Regions from separate parts of the Homo sapiens genome. Here region 2 is linked to region 1. Evidence: fine-mapped expression QTL. A gene starts in region 1. The other region holds a variant in brackets. All regions are shown on one strand. Distances are from middle to middle.

Region 1 (8,913 bases):
ATAGGTTGAGGGGAGATAGGTTTGGGGACTCATCCAGATCCTGTGTTCTGTGATTCTCAGACTTGAGATTTTAATCCTAGTTTCGGCACTCATTTCCTTAATTTAGTCCATTGAAACTGTCAAATCAAAATATAAATTTGCCATGGTAATTAGAATGATAAAAAGTGCTCAGATTTTGGGAGGCTGAAGCGGGAGGATTGCTTGAGCTCAGGAGTTTGAGACCAACCTGGGCAACATGGTGAAACCCTGCCTCTATAAAAATTGAAAAATTAGCTGGGCATGGAGGTGCACACCTGTAGTTCCAGCTACTTTGGAGGCTGAGGCGGGAGGATTGCTTGGGCCCAGGAGTTTGAGGTTCCAGTGAGCTATGATTGCACCACTGCACTCCAGCCTGGGCAACACAGCAAGATCCTGTCTTATAAAAAAAAAGTGCTCAGCTTTAGTGAGGCAGTAGTGATGGGATGGGTTTTTGGCATATCATAAAATATTTGAGGATTTTTTTTAGGTTCATTTTGTTCTGATGATAGAAGCAATATTATTTTAGAAGATATAATACAAACCAGGATACCAGAAATTCCTGAAATCTTGTCACCTAGGTATTCTGATTTTAAATATATATCTCTAGTCTTTTTTCTCTGCATTTACATAATACAGTTGATCCTTGGACAACATGGAGTCTAGGGGAGCCTAGCCCCCACACAGTCAAAAATCCACATATAACTTTTGACTCCCCAAAACCTTCACTTCTAACAGCTTACTGTTGACCAGAGTCTTACCAATAACATCAACAGTCGATTAACACATATTTTGTATTTTATTTGTAACATATACCGTATTCTTATAGTAAAGTAAACTAAAGGAAAGAAAATGTTAAGAAAATCATAGGAAAGAGAAAATATATTTACTATTCATTAAGTGGATGCGGGTCATCATAAAGGTCTTCATTCTCATCCTCTTCACGTTGAGTAGGCTGAGGAGGAGGAAGAGGAGGAGAAGGGGTTGGTCTTGCTGTCTCAGGGCGGCAGAGGCAGAAGAGAATCTGAGCATACGTGGACCTACAAAGTTCAAACTCATGTCGTTGAAGTGACAACAGCATTTTTCCCCACAAGTCTAGTTTCTATGTACAATTTTATCTTCTCTCTCTCTATATATATATACATATGTAGACATAAATATAAATATATAATATTTTTTTTTCATTTCATTTGAATCTTTTTTAAAATAATGGCTTTAATGATGATATAAAATTACATCACATGGGCTGGCCATGATGGCTCCCCGCCTGCAATCCCAGCACTTTGGGAGGCCGAGGCGGGTGGATCACCTGAGGTCAGGAGTTTGAGACCAGCTTGGCCAACATGGTGAAACCCTGTCTCTACTAAAAATACAAAAATTAGCTGGGCGTGGTGGCAGACTCCTGTAATCCCAGCTACTCGAAAGGCTAAGGCAGGAGAATCACTTGAACCTGGGAGGTGGAGGTTGCAGTGAACCGAGATTGTGCCATTGCACTCCAGCCTGGGTGACACGAGTGAAACTCTGTCTCAAAAAAGGAAAAAATAACAACAGTAAAAATAAAAGTACATCACATGGATGTGGTACATTTAATTTAACCAGGTACCTGTTAATGGTCACCTAGGTTATTTTGTCATCTTTTTCCCCCTATAATGTGGCATTGAACATTTTAGTACCTTAATCTCTGTGTGTTTTTAATTCTTTACCTAGGATAAATGTCTCTATGTGATATTAGGATAAAAAATGATTAAAAAATTAGAAAGTTTGTACCAATTTTAACTAATGAAAATGTTTGCATTGGCTGGGCACAGTGGCTCATACCTATAAATCCCAGCATTTTGGGAGGCTGAGGTGGGAGGATTGCTTGAGTCCAGGAATTCAAGACTGGTCTGAGCAACATAGTGAGACCTCGTCTCTACAAAAAAATATTTTTTAAAAATTAGCCGGACATGGTGGCTCATGCCTGTGGTCCTAGCTACTCGGGAGGCTGAGGTGGGAGGACCGCTTGAGCCCAGGAGGTGGAGGCTGCCATAAGCCATGTTCATACCACTTCACTCCAGCCTAGGTGACAGAGTAAGACCCAGTCTCAAACAAAAAAAAAAAAAAAAGAAAAACTTGTATTATCTTTTCAATTTTTTTCCTAATTCAATAAATAAAAAACAGACATTGTTTTTCATCTAAATTTCTTAAATTAATAATAAGGTTGAACATTTTGCATATTTATAGGCCACTTTAAAATTTTTTTTCATGAATTTTCTATTCATGTTCTTTGCTTATTTTTCTATGTGGAATATTTGACTTTATTATTGCTTTGTAAGAACACTTTACATATTAAGGTATTAGCTCTGCTGCTATGCTTATTGTAAAATATTTTCACAGTTTGTCTGTAGTCTTTTTTTGTTTTACTTATCGTTTTTACTTAAAGAAAATATAGTTTTTGTTAACTCAGATTTATCCTCTTTCAGCATGATTCTCTTTGCTTTTTATTCTTATAGAGCCAATTTTTTACTTGTGGAAAAAACAAATATTCACCTATGTTAAAGGCTTAAGAATACGAAATTGCTGGTTGTTTTTATTTTATTTATTTTTATTTTTTTTGAGACAGAGTCTTGCTCTGTGGCCCAGGCTGGAGTGTGTGATCTCTGCACACTGCAACCTCCGCCTCCCAGGTTCAAGCAATTCTGCTGTCTCAGCCTACAGAGCAGCTGGGACTACAGGTGCATGCCACCATGCCCAGCTAATTTTTGTAATTTTAGTAGAGATGGGGTTTCACCATATTGGTCAGGCTGGTCTCAAACTCCTGACCTCAGATGAACCACCTGCCCAGCCTCCCAAAGTGTTGGGATTACAGGCGTGAGCCACCGCCCAGGCCTGCTGGTTCTTTTTAAAAGAATGGTATCCTGACATTTAAAAACCTACCATAAACTTAATGAAAGCAGGTTTGTGTCTATCTTCACTATTGAATCCCAGTATCTTGCTTGATGCCTGCCATATAGGAAACACCCAATCCCTATTTGTGGGATGAATCCATTTCTTTTTATCAGATTATAGCAAATATAAAGCCACAATGAGATGTCACGTCACACCCGTTAGGATGGCTATTTTCAAGAAGACCAAAGAAAATAAGTATTGGCAAAGACGTGGAGAAAAGGGAACCCTTGTCTCCTGCTGGTGGGAATGTAAATTAGTACAGCCATTATGGAAAATAGTAGGGAGGCTCCTCAAAAAACCACAACTAGAACTACTATATGACCCGGCAATCCCACTGCAGGACATATATCCAAAGGAATTGAAGTCAGTGTATCGGAGAGTTATCTGTACTCTTATGTTCATTGCAGCGTTATTCACTAAGCCAAGATACGGAATCAACCTAAGTGCCCATCATTGGATGAGTGAATAAAGAAAACATGGTATATAAACACAGTGGAATACCATTCTACCTGAAGAAAGAAGGAAATCCTGTCATTTGTGCCAACGGGGATGAACCTGGAGGATGTTAAGTGAATAAGTCAGGCACAGAGTGACAAATATAGCATGATCTCACTTATATGTGGAATCTGAAAAAGTCAAACTCATAGAAACAGAGAGTACAGGGGTGGCTACCAGAAAGTGAGGGTAGAGGGACTGGAGAGGTATCCTTTGGCCAAAGGATACAAAATTTCAGGTAGACGGGAGGAATAAATTCAAGAGATCTGATGTACAATATGGTGCCTATACTTGGTAATGATATGTTATATATTTGAAAATTGCTGAGAGTGGATTTTAAGTGTTCTCACTGCAAAAAAAGTGTGATATAATGCATGTTAAATAGCTCGATTTAGCCATTCCACAATGTATACATATATGGAAACCTGTTGTACACCATAAGAATATACAATTTTTACTTCTCAATTAATAAAGAGAGGCAGAGAGGCTCACACCTGTAATCCTAGCACCTTGGGAGGTCAAGGCAGGAGGATGGATTGAGCCAGGAGTGTGAGACCAGCCTGGGCAACATAGCGAGTCCTGTCTCTACAAAAATTTTTTAAAATTAGCCAAGCATGGTGACTTGCGCCTGTGGTCCCACTTTCTTGGGAGGCTGAGGTGGGAGGATCATTTGAGCCTGGGAGGTCGAGGCTGCAGTGAGCTGTGCTCACGCCACTGCGCTCCAGCCTGGGCACAGAGCAACACCCTATCTCTAAAAATACGTAAATAAATAGTGTCCCTCAGGACAGCTATCTGTGGAAGACACCCTTTTAGTCAAATAGATTTGGGAAATTTTAAAACAGTATATATGCCCTTTTGATTATCCTCTGTGGCACATTTGCCAACGGAAGGCCCCAAGAAATGCTGACCAAAAAACCTGTGCATTTAGTTTTAAAACTAGTGGGTTTCATACTCTTTTGTTTGTTTTAACCTTGAAGCACCCCCCACCCCCCACCGCATCTCGTCCCCCCACAACATAATCTTCTCTCAAACGCATGTTGTGCTGGACCACACCAGAGTTAATCCTGACCTGTAGCCAGGTGGGCATAGATAAAAGGAAATATTGTTTGCCAGTCCCTGCTGGAATGATGCCTTTACACATCTGTCTGATCTGATTGCTCCACTGTTTTCTTTCTTCTCTTCCCTTTCCACGGTTCTAGCCTGTTCATCTAGCCCCATGATGGCTGTGGACATCGAGTACAGATACAACTGCATGGCTCCTTCCTTGCGCCAAGAGAGGTTTGCCTTTAAGATCTCACCAAAGCCCAGCAAACCACTGAGGCCTTGTATTCAGCTGAGCAGCAAGAATGAAGCCAGTGGAATGGTGGCCCCGGCTGTCCAGGAGAAGAAGGTGAAAAAGCGGGTGTCCTTCGCAGACAACCAGGGGCTGGCCCTGACAATGGTCAAAGTGTTCTCGGAATTCGATGACCCGCTAGATATGCCATTCAACATCACCGAGCTCCTAGACAACATTGTGAGCTTGACGACAGCAGAGAGCGAGAGCTTTGTTCTGGATTTTTCCCAGCCCTCTGCAGATTACTTAGACTTTAGAAATCGACTTCAGGCCGACCACGTCTGCCTTGAGAACTGTGTGCTCAAGGACAAGGCCATTGCAGGCACTGTGAAGGTTCAGAACCTCGCATTTGAGAAGACCGTGAAAATAAGGATGACGTTCGACACCTGGAAGAGCTACACAGACTTTCCTTGTCAGTACGTGAAGGACACTTATGCCGGTTCAGACAGGGACACGTTCTCCTTCGACATCAGCTTGCCCGAGAAGATTCAGTCTTATGAAAGAATGGAGTTTGCTGTGTACTACGAGTGCAATGGACAGACGTACTGGGACAGCAACAGAGGCAAGAACTATAGGATCATCCGGGCTGAGTTAAAATCTACCCAGGGAATGACCAAGCCCCACAGTGGACCGGATTTGGGAATATCCTTTGACCAGTTCGGAAGCCCTCGGTGTTCCTATGGTCTGTTTCCAGAGTGGCCAAGTTACTTAGGATATGAAAAGCTAGGGCCCTACTACTAGTGACTGCAGGTGACAGGGCGTGGCGGAGCTGCCACAGACAAGCCTAGCTCTGCTCACTGTGCAGTGGAGATGGAAGGCCAGGGAGGAGCAACGTGGAACTTCCATGAGGCCCCGTTTGGGAAAATAAAAGGATCCTCTTCACTTCTTTCTTAAACAGCAAATCCAGCCAGGTTCAGATTACACAACCAGTGTCTCACTCAAAGGAGCAGTGGTGGCTGGCGCGCTTTCGCACTGTGGCAGCCACGAGAGTCTGTGCACGTCTGTGCTGGAAAGGGTATGGATGGGAATCAAGCCTATGCCAGTGCTGATGAAGCTGGAGGAGTCTCTCCTCTGCTCTCCACTCAGATGTGGGACATCAGTCGCCAAAAGCCACTCAGCCCCAGCCACCTCGCGTGAGACCCTCACTGTTCATTGTGTTCATCTTTGGGTGCTCTCTGCCAGCCAGGCCTTTCCTGCAAGCTGCTGTGCTTCCCCGTCCACGTGTATCTCTGCTGTGACACACTGAGCTGACGCACATTTCCAGTGCAGCTGCAGAAGAGAAATGGGATTGGCTCTTGTTTTCTGCAAGTTCATGTTTTGCATTTTATGTTCTTCCACAATTGATCTGATGTTCAGGAAAAGATAATAAAGGCAAATTAGTTAGTGGTTGAGACAGGCATTTCCTCCTCCCGCTTCTTGACCCCACAGATGTATTCCAGCAGAGAGCAACACACCAGTCATCAAAACCCACTGGCTCCTGTGCGGTGTCACAGATTGCAGGGTTCTGACAAGGCAGGACAGTCAAGAGTGGGGACACTTTCAGCTTCTACTTTTGCCTTCTAGGGGGAGCTTTCTAAGTCCCCACATTTACCCCGAGTCACCGGAAAAATCTGATTTTTCCCCCGAAAGCTCAATGACTTTAACGTGCTTGGCTGGTTTGTCTCATTCTTTATGAAAGAATTTTGGGGCCGGGCGCGGTGGCTTATGCCTGTAATCCCAGCACTTTGGGAGGCCGAGGCAGGTGGATCACGAGGTCAGGAGATCGAGACCATCCTGGCTAACACGGTGAAACCCTGTCTCTACTAAAAATACAAAAAAATTAGCCAGGCGTGGTGGCGGGCGCCTGTAGTCCCAGCTACTTGGGAGGCTGAGGCAGGAGAATGGCGGGAACCTGGGAGGCGGAGCTTACAGTGAACCGAGATCACACCACTGCATTCCCGCCTGGGCAGCAGAGCGAGACTCCGTCTCAAACAGAAAAAAAAAGAGAATTTTGAATCTCCTTTCCCAAAGAGTCATCTTTTCTGCTGTGTTTAGGACATTTGATTTGCATATCCAATATCTCCTCGAAACCTTCAGAAAATGGTTTTATCGTGACTGTGATTCACACTATCTAGAACACTTTACCAGCACCCAGGGACATGGACTTGGGTGTTCTTATTTATGGTGTGTATGTAAAGAGATAGGGGAGAAAAACCTCACCCAAGTTCTTATACGTTATTTTAAACGTTTGCCAACTCTGAAATTTCAGAGATTCATTGTTCTTAACCATATTGGACTAAAGTCTGTTGGTTAGTGCTGTTGTAAAAGAGACCTCTGGGGCCGAGTGTGGTGGCTTATGCCTGTAATCCCTGCACTTTGGGAAGCCAAGGCGGGCAGCTCACCTGAGGTCAGGCGTTCAAGACCAGCCTGGCCAACATGGTGAAACCTCGTCTGTACTAAAAATACAAAATTTAGCTGAGTGTGGTGGCAGGCGCCTGTAATCCAGCTACTCGGGAGGCTGAGGCAGGAGAATCACTTGAACCCAGGAGGTGGAGGTTGCAGTGAGCCGAGATCACGTCACTGCATTTCAGCCTGAGCGACAGAGTGAAACTGTCTCAAAAAAGAGAGACTTCCGGGACAGTCATTATCAGATAGGCCCCAAACCTGTGATTTTTCTTGGGCAAGATTGGTGTTTACTTAGGGGTGCTTTAAAAATATATTTTTACAAGTATACTTGTAGGAAGTTGGTTTTTTATTTTCTATTTTTGTTTGTTTTTGGAGTTTGGTTAAACGACTCTTTTATTTTCTGTTTTGCCTTATCTTACTAAAGTGAAGTTTTCCTAAGGCAAGCAAGAAGAGGAGTGGAAGCACAGTTGCCTGGATTTGGAGGCAGAGTTGTCAGGCTTTTCAAGCTAAGAGTCTTGTGCTTGGATTTTCCAGATTAATTTGAAAAGACCTCCCATTTGTGGCTTTGTACATAACCAACAGGCAGATACTGAGTGCCTTGGCTCCTAGAGTTTTGTGGTTGGGTTAGGTTGTTTTTGTTGTTGTTTTGTTTTGGTTTTGTTTTCATTTCTGAAGTTTAAGATGCCTTGACTTTTTAAATGCTCTTAAGGCTATTCGATGTAATTCTTACTCCTAAAACTGGCTGTTCTTAGCCTGAAATCTAATGCTTTGTTTTTTGTACCTCTCCCAGGTGGGTAACACTCTAGGATGACATGATGTTATAATTTTAGGGGAAATCACATTTTTACCTTATGCTGTTACTGGGCAGAACCACGTTTTATGTAAACATACCAGACATCGGGTAACAGACAGTACTTTAAATGTTATAAATTTGGTGATCAGAACTATTAATAGCATAAATCGAACTCAAATGGAAGCAAAACTGATTTCATGCAGGTCCTGAATTTTACTTTGCCTTAAGAAGTGCCCTCCCCACAATGCAGGAGAGGCACAGAGTGCACTGTCATTGACATGTTACCCGACTAAGGATCACTCTGTTCATAAGAAAAAGGCCTGAAGTGACTCTGTTTAATAAAGTCAGTTTAATTTTATCTAATAATGATCTTAAGACATTCCCATGTCAAAATTTGAAATATGGTAATTCAGTGATAACTATCTCTTCTAAAGCAGCCGTAAACCCTCCCCACTACCCGTCTTTCTCCCAGCTCACCCTGGCTTTTTTTGCTGGGGGTGCTGGATGCAAGCCCCCAGCCAGCACACCTGGGATGCTCACCCTGCCGCACAGTTCAGAAGGCAAGTCCTCACCTGCTCGCAAAGACCCTTCTTCTCCAATAAAAGACTCTACTTGCCTGAGTTTCCTCATCAGGGCTGTCATTCAGTGATGTATGGGGGTCTGAAGAATACTGCCTTCTATCTGTCTTCTGTTTACCACTTGCTCCTCTGCTACCCTCCTGCCGCAAACAGTCTTCTTCCTTTTGGCCCAGTTCTGTCCCGTGAAATTCTCAGAAGGCCTCGGGAGCTGCGCTGATGTATTCTCTCCTTGTTTGATAGCTCATCATCAGTAGATAAGCCTACACACTTCAGAGGGTGACAGGTTTCTTACTTGGAGACTTCACTGCACCTTGACTTGTAGATTTGCCTTCAGACAGCTCTTGGTTATGGTTACAAGTGGCCCCCGAGTCCCAGAATCTTTCCCA
Region 2 (14,585 bases), 37 kb after region 1:
AGTGGAGGAAGTCAATGCAGAGGTGGTGGGAATAGCAAGAGAATTCGAATTAGAAGTGGAACCTGAAGATATGACTGAATTGCTGCAATCTCATCATAAAACTTCAACAAATGAGGCGTTGCTTCTTACGGATGAGCAACGAAAGTGGTTTCTTGAGATGGAATCTACTCCTGTTGAAGATGCTGTGAACATTCCTGAAACAACAACAAAGGATTTAGAATATTACCTAAGCCTAGTTGACACAGCAGCGGCAGGATTTGAGAGGACTGACTCTAATTTTGAAAGAGGTTCTACCATGGGTAAAATGCTATTAAACAGCATCACAAGCTACAGAGAAATCTTTTGTGAAAGCAAGTGTCAATGAACGCAGCAAATTTCACTATTGTCTTATTTTCATAAATTGCCACAGCCACCCTAACCTTCAGCAACCACCATCCTGCTAAGTTAGCAGCCATCAATATTGAGGCAAGACTCTTCACCAGCAAAAACATTATGACTTGCTAAAGGCTTGGATAATTGTTAGCAATTTTTTAGCAATAAAGTATTTTTATTTTTATTTATTTATTTTTTGAGATGGAGTCTCACTCTGTCACCCAGGCTAGAGTGCAGTGGCGTAATCTCAGCTCACTGCAACCTCTGCCTCCCAGGTTCAAGTGATTCTCTCACCTCAGGCTCCTGAGTAGCTGGGATTACAGGCACACACCACCACACCCGACTAATTTTTATATTTTTAGTACAGATGGGGTTTCACCATGTTGGCCAGGCTGGTCTCGAACTCCTGACCTCAAGTGACCCCTCTGCCTTGGCCTCCCAAAGTTCTGGGATTACAGGCATGAGCCATCGCACCTGGCCTGAAGTATTTTTAAATTAAGATGATAGGTACATCTTTTTTTAGACATAGTGCTATTGGACACTTAATACACTTTAGTATAGTATAAAGATAACTTTTAAGTGCACTGGGAAACCAAAATATTCAGGTGATTTGCTTTATTGCAATACTTGCTTTATTTATTTATTTATTTTTATTTTTTATTATTAGATGGAGTGTCACTCAGACTGGAATGCGGTGGTGTCATCTTGGCTCATTGCAACCTCTGCTTCCCAGGTTCAAGCGATTCTCCTGCCTTAGCCTCCCAAGTAGCTGGGATTACAGGCGCCCAACACCATGCCTGGCTGATTTTTGTATTTTTAGTAGAGACAGGGTTTCACCATTCAGACCACGCTGGTGTCGAACTCCTGACCTCAAATGATCTACCCACCTCAGCCTCCCAGAGTGCTGGCATTACAGGTGTGAGCCACCGTGCCCAGCCTATACTTGCTTTATTGTAGTGGTCTGGAACTGAACCTACAATATCTCCAAGGTATGTCTGTACGTAACATCAGAAAGTTGCATGGGACATTTGATGATTCTACATGGGAGAGAAGGTGATAGGAAGTAAACTGTTGGTGGCAGGAGAATGGAGGTACTGGGTTCAGGTAAGCACTTGTGTGGCATTTCACCTCCCCCAACAGTAGAAAGTCTGGCTTATTCCTCTGACCTTTATGAACAAGACATTCCTATGTCCTTAGACGTTCTTTACTATGACTTCTACAACAACCTGGGCATCATATGGAAGGTGAGTGACCTTATGTATGATAACTAACAGTGTTATGAATTTGGGCTCAACAGACTTTCTTGAGATCTTTGAGAACTTGCCCTTGCCTGCCGTTGTGCCACATGCTATGAATCCTCTGCCTTCAAATAGCTTAAAATATATTTGGGGAGGTAAGTCAGAAAGACATAAAAACAATTCCTAACACTATAAGGCACCATTGAAGTTTCAAATAATCCATTCAGATACAAAGTCACCAGGGAAAGAGAGTATTTAAGAATAGTAGGATTTAGAAAGGAATGGGGTTTGGGACTCCAGGAGTGGGTGTGCTGTGAGCAAAAGAAGACTATGATCTTGATGATCTTGGCTTCCCAGGAAACAGAGAGCATGGGACACTGGCTGGAGGGGAACTTCACAGAATCATCCCGCCCTTCAGATGAAAGAAGCAGATGAAGACCTAAGGTTATTGTTGGCTTCCTCTTTTGCCATTCATAAAACAATATACATGTTTGAATAGAAGCTTTGCAAACAATGATCGGGATGGTTGGCCAGATGTACCCTACAGGAGGTGGGAGAAAAGCAGCAATCTGTCCTAGCCCCAGGCAGGGAATGTATTATTTTATGCCAAGCAGAGCCCCCAAAATAGTGTAAAAAGCCAAGATCTCCGCTGTTGGTGCGATGAATTTCCCAGGAAGGGGAGAACAGAGGGGCTCCTTCCTTCTCTCTAAAACAAAGGAGAATGATTTGGCCCCAAGCAGAAGCAAGCAGAGGATAAATATTTACTGGCAATTTAAGGAAACAAGGGATGATGTTGCTCTGTCCCAACCAATGGAGTTGCTTCTCTTTACTTGATGTTCTCTCAGCATTGTGTACACAGTTTCTACCTCCCTATGAGGCACTTGCATCTCTAACATCTTGGGATTTTTCTTCTCATTCTTTTGGATATGGGTGTCTCACTACCATATGATTACAAGCACCCCAGAGGCAGGAGCTACTTCCTCTTCCCCTTCAAGTGCCCCTGAGTTTCAGGATACTGCAATGCAATGAACGGGTGTATAGTTGATGTGCCTGTCTAGTTAATCAAATGAATCTGGACAGAGCTGCTTTCTCTGCAGCTTTTACTACCCAGACCCCCACGTGTAGGCTGACTGGGCACAGGCTGAGATAACCAACTGTCCTACAGGAACTCTGGAAGAAGAGGCCACTGATAACCTGGCCCCTGCTGTGCTGTTCAGTGTCTGTGACTCTGAGAGCACAATAGATTTTTCCTATCTCACTACAGAAATTCCATGGTGCCAGAGAGGAGGCCTTGGCTTGAGCCAGAGCCAGCTTTGTAAAAAGTATATAGTGGGACACAGAGGGTATTATGTTAAAAAAGAGAATACCATAGAAGGGGCAGAACTAAGCAAAAATGATACCACCTCACTATAAAGAACATTTTTCTAATCCATCATTTGAATGCAAAAGCTACAAATAGTTTGTTGAGTGTCTATATTACAAAGCACAAAGGTAGGGGCTAGCATAGGAAACTGCTAAAAGCTTAAAGTTTAACTTTGAAGAATGAGTAGGATTGGATTTCTAGGCCTGGCAATATGGCCAACTAAGAAGGTTTCAACAAAAATGTTTTTCAATGCACAGATGAGCTCTCAAGAAAGAAAATTACATCTCTTGTTTCCAAAAATGCAGACAGAAGTTTAAAACAAAGAGCCCAGAAAAAACATGAGAGACATTATAACTTCTCTAGGGGAGAGGTTGGAAGAATGAGCATTAAAAAACATGTGACCCGGGTGGTGCTTCTCAAACTGTAATGTACACAGGAGTCATCTATAAGTCTTGCTAAGATAAAAATTCTGATTCTGCAGTGGGGACTAAGGGTCTATTTCTGACAGCCCACAACATGCTGCTTCTGTGGCTGCTGGTTCAGGGCCCCCACTAGGGATCTATGTAGCATTGCGTCTTAAAGCCAACATTGAGACTACATGTTAACCTCAGCAAGGCTTTGAGCCTGATAAAACCATGGAGCTGGTAACTGAAATTCCTGCATTAAGCTGGAACCCTGCTAGAGCTGCCTCCTTGGTTATAAGATCAACTAGAAAAATCTACCCGTCAGTACCAAGGTATTACAAGAAAGTTTTTCTGTTTCTGGGTGGAGAGATAAAGTCTCTCTTGAAAAATTGGAACTCTAAGCCTATACCTTGCATGGATGAAGGATTCAAATTTATTTATTCGGCCTAGGAACCCGTAAGTTCAGGAACAAACATAAGAAAAAAAAAAAAACAGGTCTTAGGACTGGGCATGGTGGCTCACACCTGTAATCCCAGCACTTTTTGAGAGGCCAAGGCGGGCTGATCACTTGAGATCAGGAGTTCGAGACCAGCCTGGCCAACATCGTGAAACCCTGATTCTACTAAAAATATAAAAATTGGCCAGGCATGGCGGCGGGCTCCTGTAATCCCAGCTACTTGGGAAGCTGAGGCAGGAGAATTGCTTGAACCCGGTAGGCGGAGGTTGCAGTGAGCCGAGATTGCGCCACTGCACTCCATTCTGGGTGACAGAGCAAAACCCTGTCTCAAAAAAACAAAAAAAAAAAAAAAAAAAAGCAAGTCTTAGTTAAGTGATACCCATAGAGTCCCTGGCAGAAATAGAGATAATAACATTAGAAGGATATTCTCACAACCCATGCCATGAGAAATGTTTACACACACACAATGTATATAAGAGCACAAATTGAAAATTACAAAATACATAAGACAACAATTCACCATTCATTCACCAAGAATGAGCAGACAAAATAAACAGGAGAATTAGACTTGATAGAACAGAATGGCAATCAGAAAGACAATATGAAAGAAAAATGTTTGAAATGATTAAATACATATCTACAGAAGACAAAACCCCTAGAAGAGAACAAGGCACTATGAAAGTAGAAAAAAAGATTTAAAAAAAGAATTTTAATGAATAAGTCTCATCATTGAGATTAAAATGCAGGGCACAGCGTAACTGCAGATCAGCAAAACTGAATAGCGAATATGGGAATTGTAAAATAGATCATTGTCATCTGCGATTGTAAAATATATGCACAGATTACCCTCTGCAACCAGAGAGATAAAGAGATAGAAAATATTACAGCATGTTAAGAGTAATGGAGATGAAGAGTCGACATTTCACCGGATTTGAGTTTTGAGAGAATGAATAAGAATTCATACTTGAAGATGTTAGTCCCAGGCAGGACAGAGGAAACCAAATCTATAGCAAGAAGCCTTGTACTGAAGCTACTGAACACACACACACACACACACACACACACACACACACGATTTACAAAACCTTAAAAATATACAAGGGAAAAGGGAGAGAGAGAGAGGAGAAAAAAAAAAAAACAGAAGGGAGGAGAGGAGGAAGCAATGAGAGAAAAAGACAGATTACACAGAGCATAACAATTCGCCTGACAAAAGGCTTCTCAGCGACAGCGATGGACACCAGAAGATGGTGGAATAATATTTCCAGCTGCTCGTGGAAAGTAATTTTAATCTAGAAACTATAGAGGGCTAAACTATTGAATAAATATAGAGATGAAACAAAAAAATATTCAGATTAAGGCCGGGTGTGGTGGCTCACACCTGTAATCCCAGCATTTTGGGAGGCAAGGCGGGTTGATCACTTGAGGCCAGGAGTTCGAGACCAGCCTGGCCAAGATGGTGAAACCCCATCTCTACTAAAAATACAAAAATTAGCTGGGCATGGTGGTGGGTGCCTGTAATCCCAGCTACTCAGGAGGCTGAGGCAGGAGAATCACTTGAACCCAGGAGGCGGAGGTTGCAGTGAGCTGAGATTGTGCCACTGCACTCCAGCCTGGGCAACAGAGCAAGACTCCATCTCTCTCTTTATATATATATACAAATTAAGACTAAGATAATATATTATTCACAGGCCCTCAATGAAAAAGAGTATATTTTCTAAAGAAGAAAACTGAACCCAAGTGGAAAGAATCAGATACAAGAAGCATTGGAATCTTAATCAAAAACAACATGACAATAAATGTGCAAAACAAGGGTTGGGGCAGTGGTCTCAGGGATTTGTTTCACTTTTCCACACACTTAGGGGCAGGGGATGGTTTGGGGATGAAACTGCTCCACCTCAGATCATCAGAGATTAGATTCTTATAAGAAGCGTGTAGCCTACATCCCTCACATGTACAGTTCACAATAAGGCTCAAGCTCCTATGAGAATGGAATGCTGCTGCTGATCTGACAGGAGGCAGAGCTCGGGCAGTAATGCGAGTGATGAGAAGCGGGTGTCAATACAGATGAAGCTTCTGACTGCTGCTCACCTCCTGCCCTGTGGCCCAGTTCCTAATAGGCCATGAACCAGTACCAATCCATGGCCTGGGGCTGGGGGATCCCTGAGTTAGGGGACTTGGAGGGCTTTTATGGAAAGAAATAGTTGAAATGCATACACTTTGACCTTCAAGAGACTCTGTACTATGTGAGGCTGGATGTGAGCCTGGCTCTAGCAGAGGGCTCCTTTGGTGACTAAGTGTAAAGTAAAGATGTTAAGGCGGATGCTTAATCCTCTGACCCTGCTGCACTTTTTTCTTAGAACTTCTCATTACCTGGCATGGTACTGGTTCATGCCAGTACTGTGCTTTATTTGTTTCTTGACTTTCTCTCCTATTATAATGTCCATGAGGAGTTGGACATGTTGGTGAATGCCTGTAACCCCAGTTACTTGGGAGGCAGAGGTGGGAGGATTGCCTGAGCCCAGGAGTTGGAGGCTGGAGTAAACAATGATTGTACTGCTGCACTCCAGCCTGGGCAACAGAGCAATACCCTGTCTCTAAGAAATAAGTAAATAAATAACTTCTATGAGGGCAAGGACTTTGTCTATTGTGTTCCCTGGCCTGGCGCATAATTAGTGCTTACATATGATTGAACACAAGAAAGGGAAAAAATTGTGCAGGGTTTCAAATGTATGGGGTGCAGACTTTCTTCTATGGGGAACAGGTGGGACGAGACTAAGGAAAATAACCAGCATTTCTGAGTGTCCACCAGGTCCTGGGCTATACACACAACATATTATCTTATTTTGCATGGATTGTGGAACAGCAAAAAGCATCTATTAGTGATCAAAATGAACTGGACTTCCAATTTGATTTAAAACACAAGCCAAGAATATTTTATTAATCTCAATTCATTGTTTTTAGATGTTACTGTGTATTTCCAAGGGAGATGTGAGCTTTGAGCTTATGTCTAATGCAATATCATGTGTCCGACTGAGGCAGCGGAGATAAGCTCCTGCTCTGTGTTCCTGCTAAAGCTTTCATACTCTGGCATGGCCACACTCAACACCACTTAATGATCTAGTCATTCCAGTTTTCTAACACCTGCCTGGATAGACCCCAGGCTGCAAAAACCCTGAAATTCCGGTTCTAACAACAAATCACTGAAAATCAGAAGGCCCCACCTTGAGCTCACAGCCAGCTCCACCTCCTTGAAGACGGGAGGCCCCTCATGCTCTGTGTTCTTAATGGCACCAGGAAGATCCCCTCCTGGGGCCTCTTGAGGTTAATTGTCTGCAGTAGAGATGTTGAAGCCAGAGAGACTCTCAAATTCTGATGCCTCTACCCCACGCCACCCCTACCAGCAAACTGTAGCCAGTTTCAGATGTACCCTGACCGGAATAGTTCTTTCCATGAATGGCGTCGGACACTGTGTCCTCACTCAAAGTCCCGATGGCATGAGGGTGACCTTGTACACACAGGATCCAGGGCAAAGAACAAGACGTATTCCCAGTCCTCACCTACAGCCAACACGTGACCTAAGAAGACCTTTTGGAGAACAGCCTGAGCAGCTGGGCAGCCATATAGAAAACTGCTAGCTGTGCATCTACAGGCTGATGGAACAATCACGACCTGTCCTCATGGAGAAGCGTCCGAGGTGTGGCCCCATGTTCCTGCCACACTGCATTGACTCTTTCTCCAATGGAGTCTCGGGTACTCTTCCTTTCTGCCTTTTCTGGTATTTGCAATCTCCACCTTCACCACTTGCTTCTTTCCCCGGGGTTGAAACAAGTTCACAAATGAACACATAAATAAACCCTTCCTCTTTCCCCTGTACATCTCCTTACTCTATCATCACCCACTCTCCCTGAATTTGTGCCCGAAATAACCCCTGCTGCTGACAGCCCCCAAGAGCAGCCCAGTCGACTTATCCAAGGGTCCTTTCTTCTTCCTTTGAACATAACTTTAAATAAGTCTTTTGTCCTAGATAGCACGCTCTAGAAGTACAAGGAGTACATCTTAGACTTCTTGTTAACCCCGAGCTTTGTACGCAGCAGGTGCTCACAATTGCTAGAAGGGATGGAGAGAAAAAGGGATTGATTCAGAAAATGATGTCACTGCAGGCAGTATTCTTTCAAAGGAGTGAGTTTCTGAACTTGTAGACCTTGAAGAAATTGTAAAGGATCTGATTTCAGACCCAGTGGAAGCTGCAAGAACAATGTGGTTTCGAGTTCTGCTGTTTCATTATCCCGGGTTGATTCAGCTGGCTGGGCGGGTGCCCTCTTTTCTCTCTAGGAGCTCCAGCTGCCCCTCCAAGCCCCTCTTCTGGCCTGGCATTCCCCAGCCTGCAGTGAAGGTCAGAGCAGATCCTACCGTATTCAGAGAAGTAGGAAACGCGAGCTTGAATCTTCTTCAGTGTTCTCAAGAGAGTGAGATATTGGCAAGCACCTGTTTTCTCAGCACTGAGAAAAGGGATCAGGGATTGGTGAGTGGAAGACACTAATTCAAGTAATGAAGGGCTTTTGCTCTCATTTTGACAAGATGAAAAACCACACAATAATTTATGAACCACGCAGGCAACTTTTAATCACCACGATTACTATAGACAGGCAAGGGCAGTGTTGATAGGAGTGTGGGAGAGAGCTTCCTGGAGGAGGTGAGGTGGAAGCTTCTCCTGGTGCAATGTGCAGTGTGGGAACAATGTCCAAGAACCATGGTTTGCAGGTCTGTGGCATGACCTAAAGGCTTTGGAAGGCCCCAGAAGACAAAAGCACATGTCAAAGCTACAGACACTTTGCAGTTCCTTTCAAAGGGCTCACAGGATGGAAATGGAGTCAGCGAGAGGGGCATCTACCATGCTGTTAAACGGAGAAGAGAGGTTTGGAGATTTGGGGACTGGGCTTTTGCACACCAGGGACAAAGCATGAGTGCAGCTTGTGATAAGAATTGATTTCTTCCCGGCCCCAGTCACCCCTGCTTTTGGTGATAGTTTCCATTTAAAACCGAATTCCTATGAAAGGAGCGCGGGGGCCTGCCCCGTGCCTGCGACCTGGGGTGGAGCAGACAAACACTGAAAAAGGGCTGACATGTATGGATGCCTCTGGTGATAGCAGTGGTTATATTTAGTCCCAAGCTCAAGTTAAACAGGGGGCCTCCTGCAATATGTATGAAGAGAGCACCAAGAGCAAACACAAGTGCAGGGCCAGTAAAAATAAAAGAGCAAAGTGCAAGACTCGAAAGAGTAAATATGCACAGGCTCTGGCCCCAAGATATGCCAGGTGGGTGGAGCTAGACACTGTGAACAGGGCCAGGAGAGCCAGTGCCACTGCAGAGGGGCCCCTTCCCATTGTCAAGTGCTCATAGTGAGTACAACAAATCCTCCAAGGCCTCCTGCCTTTACCATCCACTCTCCAGCTGCATGCTTAAGAAAAGGCTGGGAAATAATCATCCTGGGTCCCAGTTTCTTCATCTATAAAATGAGAGGACCGAGATGCAAAAAAAACAAATTCCTCTCCTGCATTAGGATTTTTCCAACTCACCTTACTAGCTGCCTGGAAAGGTGTGAGGCTGAATGACACCTCCTTTGTTCTCCAAACACTGTTGACATAGTGACCCAACTGTTAGTTATCTTGATCATGTCCTCTAAGGGATCAACTGAGCAAAGAGCCAAAGAACCCACTTTTTTTTTTTTCTTTTTCAGAACTAGAGTTGATCTACTTTCAAGTTTAACAGCTCAGCTCCTAAAGGAAAATCTGACTCTCTGTGTAGCAGCAATACACTGGGCTGGCAGCCTCTTATAGCACCTTGAAGCATATTAGAAAAAGTTACTCT[A/C]TCCAGGTAGGCAGAGTCTTCAGGGCCCCCAGCTTGGTGAAGGGAGCTCAAGCTGCATCTCGTCACCTCCCCACCCCAACCCTCTCCACTCAACCCTTGGCCGGCACTTCCGTGGGGCAGAACCTACACAATCCTACACCTTAATATAGCAGCTGGCTGTCAGTCAAAGTCAGGAAGGTTTATTTTCTTGATGCCTGTTCCTTGCTTACAGGGCCTCTTTTTCATGTCCACTCAACTGTCTGGATTCTTCTGCTTTTTGTTTCATGTACTCTCCTTTCTCTCTGACGTGTCATCTCCATACAAGTAAGCATGAAGTTGGTGCAAAAGTAATTACTTTCAATGGCAAAAGCCGCAATTACTTTTGCACCAACCTAATAATAGCGTGATAACACACAGATTCACAAAACAGGTCATACTTTTATTCACCAGTCTAGGCTGTACCTTCCTGAAAGTCAGGGACATGGTTTATCTGAGCAAAACGCTTGACCCATAGTGGATATTCAGTAAATACTGTTGAATGAATGAAAAACAATCTCCCAGTGGTTCTAAATTGCCTTTGAATCATGGATTTCTTTGAAATCTGATGGAAGCCAGGGTGATATGATTTTGCTCTGTGTCCCCACCCAAATCTCATCTCGAATTGTAATCCCCATGGGGAGGGGCCTGGTGGGAGGTGATTGGATCAAGGGGGTGGTTTCCCCTAGGCTGTTCTCCTGATAGTAAGTGAGTTCTCACGAGATCTGATGGTTTAAAAGTGTGGCACTTCCCCTGCATCTTGCCGTCTGCCTCACTTCCCCTTCTCCTTTTGCCAAAAATGTAAGTTTCCTGAGGCTACCCCAGCCATGCGGAACCGTGAGTCAATTAAACCTCTTTTCTTCATAAACTACCCAGTCTCAGGTAGTTCTTTATAACAGTTTGAAAAGGAACTAATACACAGGGATATTTTCTCGCAAAATGAACATGTACAAACATACTAAATTTTGCATACAGTTTGGGAAGGATCACCAACTCCTAGCAGGAAGGGATTTAGATTTTAAGCCAGGATAAAAAGGTGTGATCCCTTTAAAAAAAAAAAAAAAAAAAGGTTGCGGGGGGGACTAGAAATGAACTAGGACCTGACCCTCACCAAGAATCTAATGTGTCACCGGGTAACGGGTCTGTCATCTTCTTTAATCCTTACAACCACCCTTTAAATAGGCATTACTATCTTCATTCTACCAACGAGAAAATGAGGTTTCAATAGCTTTTCCACTGTGAAACATCAGACCGAATATTCAATCCAAGTCTCTTTTACCTGCAAACTCATATTCTTCTGCTATGTCATTATGCCTCCAAATATTACAAATTCTCAGGATTCTACAGTCAATTCCCATTTATTGTGTTTTGATGGATGAGGCCCTTTAAAAAAACTACCATCTAAACCAAGCAAACAAATGCATCTTAAATATAGTCATATATTTTAGATTAGACAACTTTATAAAGGATTCCTATGGAGTTTTAACAAAATCTATAAAATGATTGCCAAATGTATCTTGCACATTATATTTTCCTTAGATTCTTAGACTAACAGTAAAGCAAAATGAAACCAACATCTCAGCTAATCAGAATGCCCCTCACTGGCACCTGTGACTAGGTTAATGTGCTTCTGTCCATGCTGAAAGAAAGCAAAACAGAAGATAAGAGTCTTGACTTTAGCATACATTGACTCATTCACTTACACCGTGGATAGAAACACAAACTGCAGGGTCAGAAAGACCTAGGTTTGAGTTCTATCCTTTTCGCTAGTTGTTAAGAGACCTTAGGCAAGTTACTTAACTTTGAAAAGGCTTAGCTTCCTCATTTTAAATGAGGGTATTCACGGTAACTATTTCAGAGGAATTGTTATTATTATTATTATCATTTTTTGTATTTTAAATATACAGTAGGAACATTTATTTTAACACTTCTAAAAGATATTTCTCCATGCCTGATGATTTGATATAAAAATCAAACCCATCATACTTTCCCCATCAGTCTCTCTACATTTAGGGCAATCAGAAATTTGTACAACACGAATATTTGCTTCTGAAATGAAAATTACAAATTTTATTGAAGGGGTTAATGAATAATGCACTTAAACTTCATAGTGCAATGCTTGGCTTGTAGTAAATGTGCAGTAAATGTTAGCTACAATTTTTCATCTTTACCATCTTGGTCTTCATCGATGTGGTTCTACAACGAGCTGACATGAACAGAATGATGGCCCTGAGGTTCAACAGAACTGGTAGTTTGCCACATGACTCAGCAATTCCACTCACAGTTGTCTGCCCAAAAGAAATGAAAGCATGTGTCCATAATACCAATACCGTTAGCAAAGACTGCGGCATTATTCGTAATAACCAAAAAGTAGAAACAACCCCAAAGGTCCATTGATAGGTAAAAGGATAAATAAATTGCTGTATCATACAATGGAATGCTCTACAGTGGTAAAGAGAACAAAAGCCACGTGAAAAAGAGTATATAGTGTATGCTTATTTATTTATTTGGTTGGGGTTTCTGTTTCTTTCTTTTTTTTTTTTTTTTTGAGAGAGAGAGTGTCCCGCTCTATTGCCCAGGCTGGATTGCAATGATACCGTCACAGCTCACTGCTGCCTTGACCTCCCAGGCTCAACTGATTCTTCCAACTCAGTCTCCTGAGTAGTTGGGATCACAGGCATGCACCACCACACCTGGCTAATTTTTTATTTTTTGTAGAAACAAAGTCTCACTATATTGTCCAGGCTGGTCTTGAACTCCTGGGCTCAAGCAAACCTCCTGGCTCCCTAAGTGCTGGGATTACAGGCATGAGCCACTGTGCCTGGCCCTGTATGATGATTTATACAAAATTCTGAAAAAAGTTGAACTAATCAGTAGCATTGGAGTTCAAATCTTACTTGGGGAGAAGGAAGAAGAGAGCACAAGAACTCTTTGTTGGTTGGATGGATATGCTCATCATATCCTGGTGATGGTTTTATGGGTATATACAGATGTTAAAACTTACCAAATTGTGGCCGGGTGTGGTGGCTCATGCCTGTAATCCCAGCACTTTGAGAGGCTGAGGCAGGTGGATCATTTGAGGTCAGGAGTTCGAGACCAGCCTGGCCAAAATGGTGAAACCCTGTCTCTACTAAAAATACAAAAATTAGCCGGATGTGGTGGGGGGGCGCCTATAATCCCAGCTACTCGGGAAGCTGAGGCAGGAGAATCATTTGAGCTTGGGAGGCAGAGGTTGCAGTGAGCCGAGCTTGCACCACTGCACTCCAGTCTGAGTGACAGTGAGAGCCTGTCTGAAACAAACAAACAAACAAAAAACTTACCAAATTGTATATTTGAAATATGTGCAATTTGCTGTAAGTCAATTATACCTCAATAAGGCTGTTTAACATTTTTTTCTATTTCTTTATTAAAAATTTTTTTTTTATTTCAATAGGTTTTTGGGGAACAGGTGGTATTTGGTTACATGAATAAGGTCTTTTGTGGTGACTTCTGTGATTTTGGTGCACCCATTGCCCAAGCAGTGTACACTGTACCCAAGGTGTAGTCTTTTTATCCCTCACCTCCCTCCCAACCATTGCCTGGAGTCCCCAAAGCCCACTGTATCCTTCTTTTTGTTATTGTTGTTGAGATGGAGTCTCACTTATTCTGTCACCCAGGCTGGAGTGCAAAGGCGCCATTTCGGCTCACTGCAACCTCTGCGTCCCGGGTTCAAGCGATTCTTGCTTCGGCCTCCCAAGTAGCTGAGATTACAGCTCAAGCTACCACACCCAACTAATTTTTTGTATTTTTAGTAGAGATGGGGTTTCACCATGTTGGCCAGGCTGGTCTCAAACTCCTGACCTCAGGTGATCCACCCGCCTCAGCCTCCCAAAGTGCTGGGATTACAGGCGTGAGCCACTGCGCTCGGCCAATTATTTGTATTTTTAGTAGAGACAGGGTTTCACCATTTTTGCCAGGCTGGTCTCATACTCCTGACCTCAAGTGATCAGCCCACCCCAGCCTCCCAAAGTGCTGGAATTACAGGTGTGAGCCACTGTGCCCGGCCCACTGTATCATTCTCATGTCTTTGCATCCTCATAGCTTAGCTCCCACTTAGGAGTGAGAACATGCGATGTTTGGTTTTCCATTCCTGAGTTACTTCACTTAGAATAATGGTCTCCAATTCCACTCAGGTTGCTGCAAATGCCATTATTGCATTTCTTTTTATGACTGAGTAGTATTCCATGGTGTATATACATATACCATAATTTCTTTATCCACTATTTGATTGACGGGCATTTGGGTTGTTAAGCATTTTTTTTTAATTAACAAAAATTTAAACTTCTGCAATGGCTTTTATTGCTTTCAGAATAAAATCCACATTCTTTATGATGTATATAGTGCTTGTTTATGTCTTTTCTTCTTTCTTCTTTTCTTTCTTTTAAAAAAGTCTCTTAACTGCCTACTAAATGATAAATTACTCTTTTTTTTTTTTTTTTTTGACAGAGTGTCATTCTGTCACCTAGGCTGGAGTGCAGTGGCACAATCTTGGCTCACTACAACTTCTGCCGCCCTGGTTCAAGTGATTCTCCAGCCTCAGCCTCCTGCGTAGCTGGGACTACAGGCGCACGCCACCGTGTCTGGCTAATTTTTGTATTTTTAGTGGAGACCGGTTTTTACCATGTTGGCCAGGCTGGTCTCGAACTCAGCCTGTGATACTCAGGAGATCCACCTGCCTCAGCCTCCCAAAGTGTTGGGATTACAGGCGTGAGCCACCGCACCTGGCCCTAAATGATAAATTACTTCTGAAGAGAGGCCCTGTTTGTTTGGTTTACCACTGGGTCCCCAGTACCAAATGCAATGCCTAGCACAAAAACACTCGACTGTTA

Alleles and levels. Alleles are on the strand shown, and positions count from the first base shown. SD is a standard deviation of normalised expression in the study named.
In carriers of allele C in region 2, the expression in anterior cingulate cortex of the gene that starts at base 4,887 in region 1 tends to be lower than with A alone (moderate effect, 0.50 SD a copy in GTEx).

What was found. PIP is the estimated chance that this variant, and not a neighbour inherited with it, causes the effect. A credible set is the group of variants that fine-mapping cannot tell apart.
Region 2: its variant is the best candidate, but not a certain one, in a credible set for the expression of PPP1R3B-AS1 in anterior cingulate cortex (GTEx, PIP 0.90).

Annotation. Positions count from the first base shown.
Region 1 is chr8:9,137,393-9,146,305 of GRCh38, reverse strand. PPP1R3B-AS1 (PPP1R3B antisense RNA 1) reads right to left here and starts at 4,887. Exons shown (of 2, transcript XR_007060810.1): 1 at 4,508-4,887; 2 at 796-1,055. PPP1R3B (protein phosphatase 1 regulatory subunit 3B) reads left to right here. Exons shown (of 2, transcript NM_024607.4): 2 at 4,638-8,913. The coding sequence starts at 4,655. The coding sequence ends at 5,512. RefSeq lists an enhancer at 5,318-5,817.
Region 2 is chr8:9,097,279-9,111,863 of GRCh38, reverse strand. It overlaps a transcript of ERI1 not described here. Among named protein-coding and RNA genes, the nearest start is that of PPP1R3B-AS1, 37 kb to the left of the region's middle. The variant A/C (reference allele first, on the strand shown) is at 9,703.